Regions from separate parts of the Homo sapiens genome. Here region 2 is linked to region 1. Evidence: fine-mapped expression QTL. A gene starts in region 1. The other region holds a variant in brackets. All regions are shown on one strand. Distances are from middle to middle. Region 1 holds the start of MAPK8IP3 (mitogen-activated protein kinase 8 interacting protein 3). Region 2 overlaps MAPK8IP3 (mitogen-activated protein kinase 8 interacting protein 3).

Region 1 (2,898 bases):
TGTTAACTCCTCAGAAGCCAGAGTGGAGTTTCTCAGCCCTGGCTACATCAGCTAACAATCTCGCCAAGCAAGGAACCAAGGGGGCAAAGACATCACCTCCAGAAACTCGAGTGTTCCTTCTGCTGACAGAGGAGCAGCCCGCCTGCGGCCTTGTTCTGTGTTTACATCAACCACCCAATTCACCCGTGTCACAGACCTTCAAAATACGGGATTAGGGACAAGGGAAAGGTCTCCAACATCATCCACAGACGGCTGCAGCCCCCTAAGAACACCAAAAGATTCCTTTTCTAGATGGGTTTAGAATGGCAGCCAACAGAGGTAGCACTTGGGGTCGGGAAACGGTTTTGACTGAACACACGCACGAAAGCAAAGGCAATTGTCATGCAGAGGTGGGTGGGGAGGGGAGAGTGAGGCCTGGCTTTGAAGCTGAGCTCCCCGGGGATGACGCCAGGCACATCGGGTTTGGGGCTGAAGATTCAGGGCTGGGGGCACGGAGGAGGGGGCCAGGGCCCAGGCCTGGGCGGAAAAGGGGGTCCCCGGGAGTCGGGGTGGGGTCCCGGGGCAGGCGGGGGAGTGCTCTAGGGAGGTGTCTCACGGCGGGCAGAGGGGGTGGGGAAGTCCCGGGGCGGGGGATATGGGGTCCAGGCGGGTCTCGGGGCGGGGTCTGGGGGTCCAGGGGTCCCGCGGTCCGGGGTGCCGGAGCGGGGTCTGGGGTCGGGACGGGTGTTGGGTCCGGGGCCCGGGGCTGGCTGGGGGTCCGGGACGGGGATGCGGGCGGGTCCCGCGGCCCACGCACCTCCTCCGCCTGCCTGCGCAGCGCCTTCTCACGCTCGTACTGGGTGAGCAGCTGCTCGTTGTCCTCGCGCAGCAGCTCCAGCTCCACCTCGTGCTCCTGGTTCTCGCTGAGCACCGAGTCTAGGTTCTCCAGCACGTTCACCACCAGCGGCATGAGCTCCTTGACCACCTCCTCGTCGTAGCAGTGGATGAGGCGCTCGAACTCGCGGTAGATGGAGCCCGCCAGGCCCGACACCCGCTCCGACATCACCGAGCCGGAGCAGTAGTCGTCCTGGTACACCACCACGCCGCCGCCCTCGTCCATCTGGATCTCCATCATCGCGGCCACCGCCGCCGCCAGCGCGGCTCGCTATCCGGCCGGCGCGCCCGGCCCTCCCCAGCTGCCTCAGGTTCCGCAGGCCGCAGCCCGTCGCCTCCCGCAGCTGCTGTCGCCTCAGGGCTCCGCCGCCGCCGCTGCCGAGGCTGCGCCCGTCACTCACTCACCGGAAGTCCCGCCCTCCAGCCGGAGGGGGCGGTGCCCGCGCGTCCCGCCGCAGCCGCGCCGCCAGGGGGCGCAGGGGCCGTGACGTCAGAGGAAGCCGGGCTTCGGGCCGGAAGCGCGGGTGAGCCGGGCAGAGGGAGCTCCCGGCCAGGCCGGTGGGATCCGCGGGGCGGCAGTGGTCGCTTCCCCCAGCGCGCTGTAGCTTGATCATGTCCCCGCAACCGTGGGCTTCCGGTGACCTCGATCCCGTCTCCAGGCTCTGCACACTTCGGCGGACTTAGGTGAAGGCTCAGCGCCTGCGCCTCAATCCCGGCCGCCCTGATGAGCCTCCGTTCCCTACAGCACCGCGCCCCGCTCAGTGCCTCCCCTCTCCTGATGCCTTCCCCGCTCAGCTGGCTCCTCCCGGGATTCTGTGAATGCACCCTCAACGCCCATCTCATCCTGAAACCCAGCAGCGTGGCCTCCTTCCTTTCGCCCACTTCTCCCTACTGCACTGACTGCTTCAGATTTTCTTTTTTTTTTTTTTTTTTGAGATGGAGTCTTGCTCTGTCGCCCAGGCTGGAGTGCGGTGGCGCGATCCTGGCTCACTGCAAGCTCCGCCTTCTGGGTTCAAGTGATTCTTCTCCCTCAGCCTCCGGAGTAGCTGGGATTACAGACCAGCTAATTTTGTATTTTTAGTAGAGACGGGGTTTCGCCATGTTGGCCAGGCTGGTCTCAAATTTCTGATCTCAAGTGATCCGCCCGCCTCGACCTCCCAGAGTGCTGGGATGACAGGCGTGAGCCACCGCGCCAGTCCAGATTTTCGGTTACTTTTCAGCTACGTGCAATCTGTTTAACCCATCCACTGGGTTATTAATTGCACCGATTTTTTTTTTTTTGAGACGGTGTTTCGCTCTTGTCGCCCAGGCTGGAGTGTGATGGCGCGATCTCGGCTCACTGCAACCTTCGCCTCCTGGGTCCAAGCGATTCTCCTGCCTCAGCCTCCTGAGTAGCTGGGACTACAGACACGCGCTATTAACGCCCGGCTCATTTTTTTGTATTTTTAGTAGAGACGGGGTTTCACCATGTTGGCCAGGCTGGTCTTGAACTGCTGACCTCAAGTGATCCACCCGCCTCCCTCGGCGTCCCAAAGTGCTGGGATTACAGGCGTGAGCCACTGCACCCTGCCAATGATTCTGTTTTTGTCCTATTTGATTTCTTATATTCTAGCAGTTTTAATAGGCTCTTATACTTCCAACCACATATTTATCTTTAAGCGTTGGGTGTGCCTCATAACTACAGTATCTGCAGCCCTTGCAGGTCTGATTCTGCATGTCATCCTGGTTGACTCTTGGCCCAGGGTCCCCTTTCCCCCATTCTGAGCCAGTGTCCCCAGGACTTTTGTCTCTGGAAGTACTTGAGGCCTGAACTTAAAATGTGTTGCTCCGTAAGATTTGCACTTTATTTTGCTGGGCAGGGGACACCATGAACCCAAGACTTTGAAACTCAATTTGGGAGCCACACATGTATTGTGAATCCTGATGAAACCACATCAGTGACTATTTAATGCTAATAGAAATGGCCACTTACCGTCTTTCACCTACTGCAATGCTCATCAGTTCAGATCCTCTCATCCTAATCTG
Region 2 (2,898 bases), 26 kb before region 1:
CAGAAGGACCTGGTTGTGGCAGCGCTGACAAGAGAGCACCCCAGATCCATCCCTTACAAAATGATCGAGGGGCTTCTTCCAGAGGGCACCGTCTGGTTCCCTGAGGGGAGTGCAGCAGCCCTGACATAGCCTTCAGGAGCCGTGGCAGAGCTGCAGAGGGGACCCCAGCAGTGGGGCCCTGACAAGGACGAGGTGCACCACCATGGGGCTTCCCACTGAACTCTCGGCGCCAGGACGAGCCAAGGGACGGGGGCGGCGCCCAGCCCAGACTCAGCTCAGGTCCCTGGGTCCCGCGGGGACACCTCGACAGCAGGTTCCTGGGCCACCTTCTGCCCCACACCATGAGAGAAACATGCAGGACGAAGTACTCCTTGCCCCGCAGCCACGCGCCTCTTCCAGGTAGGCCTGGCCTGGCCCATGACGACGGCAGCATCAGGCGGCTCTGGAGCTGGGGCAGCCTCTGCTCTTGGCTGAGCTCACATGGCCCTGGGGCTCTCAGGACCTCTCGGGTGTTGTCTGTGGGCCTGGGGTGGGGATCACTGCAACTCGGAACCTGGGCTCTCGGCCGGCGTCCTGAGTTCACACGTCACACCTCTGGGATCTGGGATGAGCTGGGCACACTGTTGCTGGGCTCCTCCTGCCCAGGCGCCCTCCGACACAGCCTCAGAGGCACTCCTGTCTGAGGCTGCGCTGGCAAGGAGGCAGCTGAAGGTTCTGGAATGCTGCAGCTCCCAGGGGATGGCCAAACTGCCTGCCTCTGCCCCCAGCTCCCCTGAAAAACAACACAAAGATCCCGGGTCCAGGTTCGATTTTAATTCCAGTTAGCTTGGAATCCTCTTCCAACTGCCGAGAGCCAGAGGTGAGGATGTCCCAGCGTGCATGCCACGAGACGGGAGCTGCGAATGAGAATCTCCCACTGTGGGATCTGATGGAAACACCTGCAAGGCTTTCACAGCTTGCCAAGCTGGCATCCACACGCCCCGGTGTAGTTCTCATGGTGCTCCAGGTGGGCGGATGGCTGGCGCTGCCCATTCTTGGGGCAAGCTGGCATCCACACGCCCTGGCGTAGTTCTCATGGTGCTCCAGGTGGGCGGATGGCTGGCACCACCCGTTCTCGGGGCAAGC[T/A]GGCATCCACACGCCCTGGCGTAGTTCTCATGGTGCTCCAGGTGGGCGGATGGCTGGCACCACCTGTTCTCGGGGCAAGCTGGCATCCACACGCCCTGGCGTAGTTCTCATGGTGCTCTGGGTGGGCAGATGGCCGGCGCCGCCCGTTCTCAGGGCAAGTCCCTGAGAACTGCAGGTCCCTGCTCCAGCTGAGAGCAGCGAGACTGCCTGAGGACCTGCTGCTGCAGGCTCCACGGCACGCCCCTGGCCAGCTGGGCCTTTGCGCACACCGTGCATTTGCTCTCACGTCCAGAGACTCGGAAGCAGAGTCTGACAGCTTCTTCTGTATCATCCAGAACGTGACCCATGAAGCCCAGAGCTGGACGTTCTGACCCTTCTCGTTTGCAGGTGTAACCCCCAGAACAGGCAGGCACGATGCAGCTTTCGCAGCTGGCCAGGCCTTGATGGGGTGTGAGGGAGGCTTTTGCCATCGCAGCCCTGGCTGTGGGAGGCTTGGGGGCAGAAACAGGCTTCCCCCCTTCCAGCTGCCCCAGCTCTGTAGGACGGCAGCTTCTGACTTCAGGCCCTTCCTCCCCGCTGCTGGAGACTCAGAACGAGAGCGCCAACCTCCCCAGCCCAGGTCGCGTCTCTGGTCTCCCATGGCCGGTCCCCTGGAGCTGCAATACCCTGGCAAGATCTCTGATGCTCTGCTCCCTGGGGCCTGCAGCCCGGCTTTCTCCTGATTCAAAGGGCACAGAAAACGGAGAGGAACCCATTCTAGGCAGGCTCCCCCGACTCTCTGAGGAAAACCAGCACCGAGCCCTGGAAACCCACCGGTACCCCCACCCTGTGGAAGGAATAAGACTCAGTGCAGGGCTGGCCAAGGCTCCTGGGCTCATCCACACAGTATTTGAGGCAGTATGTTCTAGAAAGTCCCTCAAACACTAAACCATTGCCCCTAGGGGAAAAATATGTACACATGCAGGTACGCGTATAAGATTGTGATCTCAAATCCTCAAAGCCATGCATTCCGGTCAGTTCTACTTCCTTTATTTTACAAAAACGAAAAGGAGGTTGGAAATATAGGGTGGCTGGCCACCCTACTAACAGGAAATCCTCAAAGCAATGCATCCTGGTCAGTTCTATTTCCTTTATTTTAAAGGAAGTTGGAAATATAGGGTGACTAGCCACCCCACTAACAGGTGCCACAGCTGGGCTTGGAGCCCCTGGAACTAACCCTAGAACTGGCCTCATGCGTGACACGTGACACTGCCTGGCCCTCCTGTCTCCTCTCCGGGCATCTGGGTAGGAGGTGAAGAGGAGGGCAGAGCATCGCCTTGTCCCACCTCTGTGGGGAGCCAGCACAGGGACTCCCGTTTCTCCCTAATGTGTGCCTGTCTGCAAAGGACTGTTAAGTGCTCTGAGTACTGATTCCCTTTCTTTCTTTTTTGAGACAGGCTCTCACTCTACCACCCAGGCTGGAGTGCAGTGCGCAATCTTGGCTCGCTGCCACCTCCGCCCCTGGGGTTCAGGTGATTCTCCTGCCTCAGCCTCCAGAGTAGCTGGGACCACAGGCATGCACCATCACACTGGCTAATTTTGTTATTTTTATGATTTATTATTTATTTATGTATTTATTTTTGAGATGGACTCTCTGTCGCCCAGGCTGGAGTGCTGTGGCGTGATCTCAGCTCACTGCAGTCTCCGCCTCCCAAGCTCAAGCAATTCTCCTGCCTCAGCCTCTCTAGTAGCTGGGACTACAGGCATGTGCCACCACACCCAGCTAATTTTTGT

Evidence for each region. PIP is the estimated chance that this variant, and not a neighbour inherited with it, causes the effect.
Region 2: its variant is fine-mapped to the expression of MAPK8IP3 in sun-exposed skin (GTEx, PIP above 0.99). The same link has a PIP of 0.9 or more in unexposed skin.

What each region holds. Positions count from the first base shown.
Region 1 is chr16:1,704,556-1,707,453 of GRCh38, reverse strand. It overlaps MAPK8IP3 (mitogen-activated protein kinase 8 interacting protein 3), which reads right to left and starts at 1,259. Exons shown (of 32, transcript NM_001318852.2): 1 at 797-1,259. The coding sequence starts at 1,114. RefSeq lists silencers at 716-765, 786-895, 1,166-1,505, 2,412-2,706 and an enhancer at 1,064-1,928.
Region 2 is chr16:1,730,984-1,733,881 of GRCh38, reverse strand. The region is part of intron 4 of MAPK8IP3 (mitogen-activated protein kinase 8 interacting protein 3); the gene reads right to left. Among named protein-coding and RNA genes, the nearest start is that of MIR3177, 2.6 kb to the left of the region's middle. The variant T/A (reference allele first, on the strand shown) is at 1,126.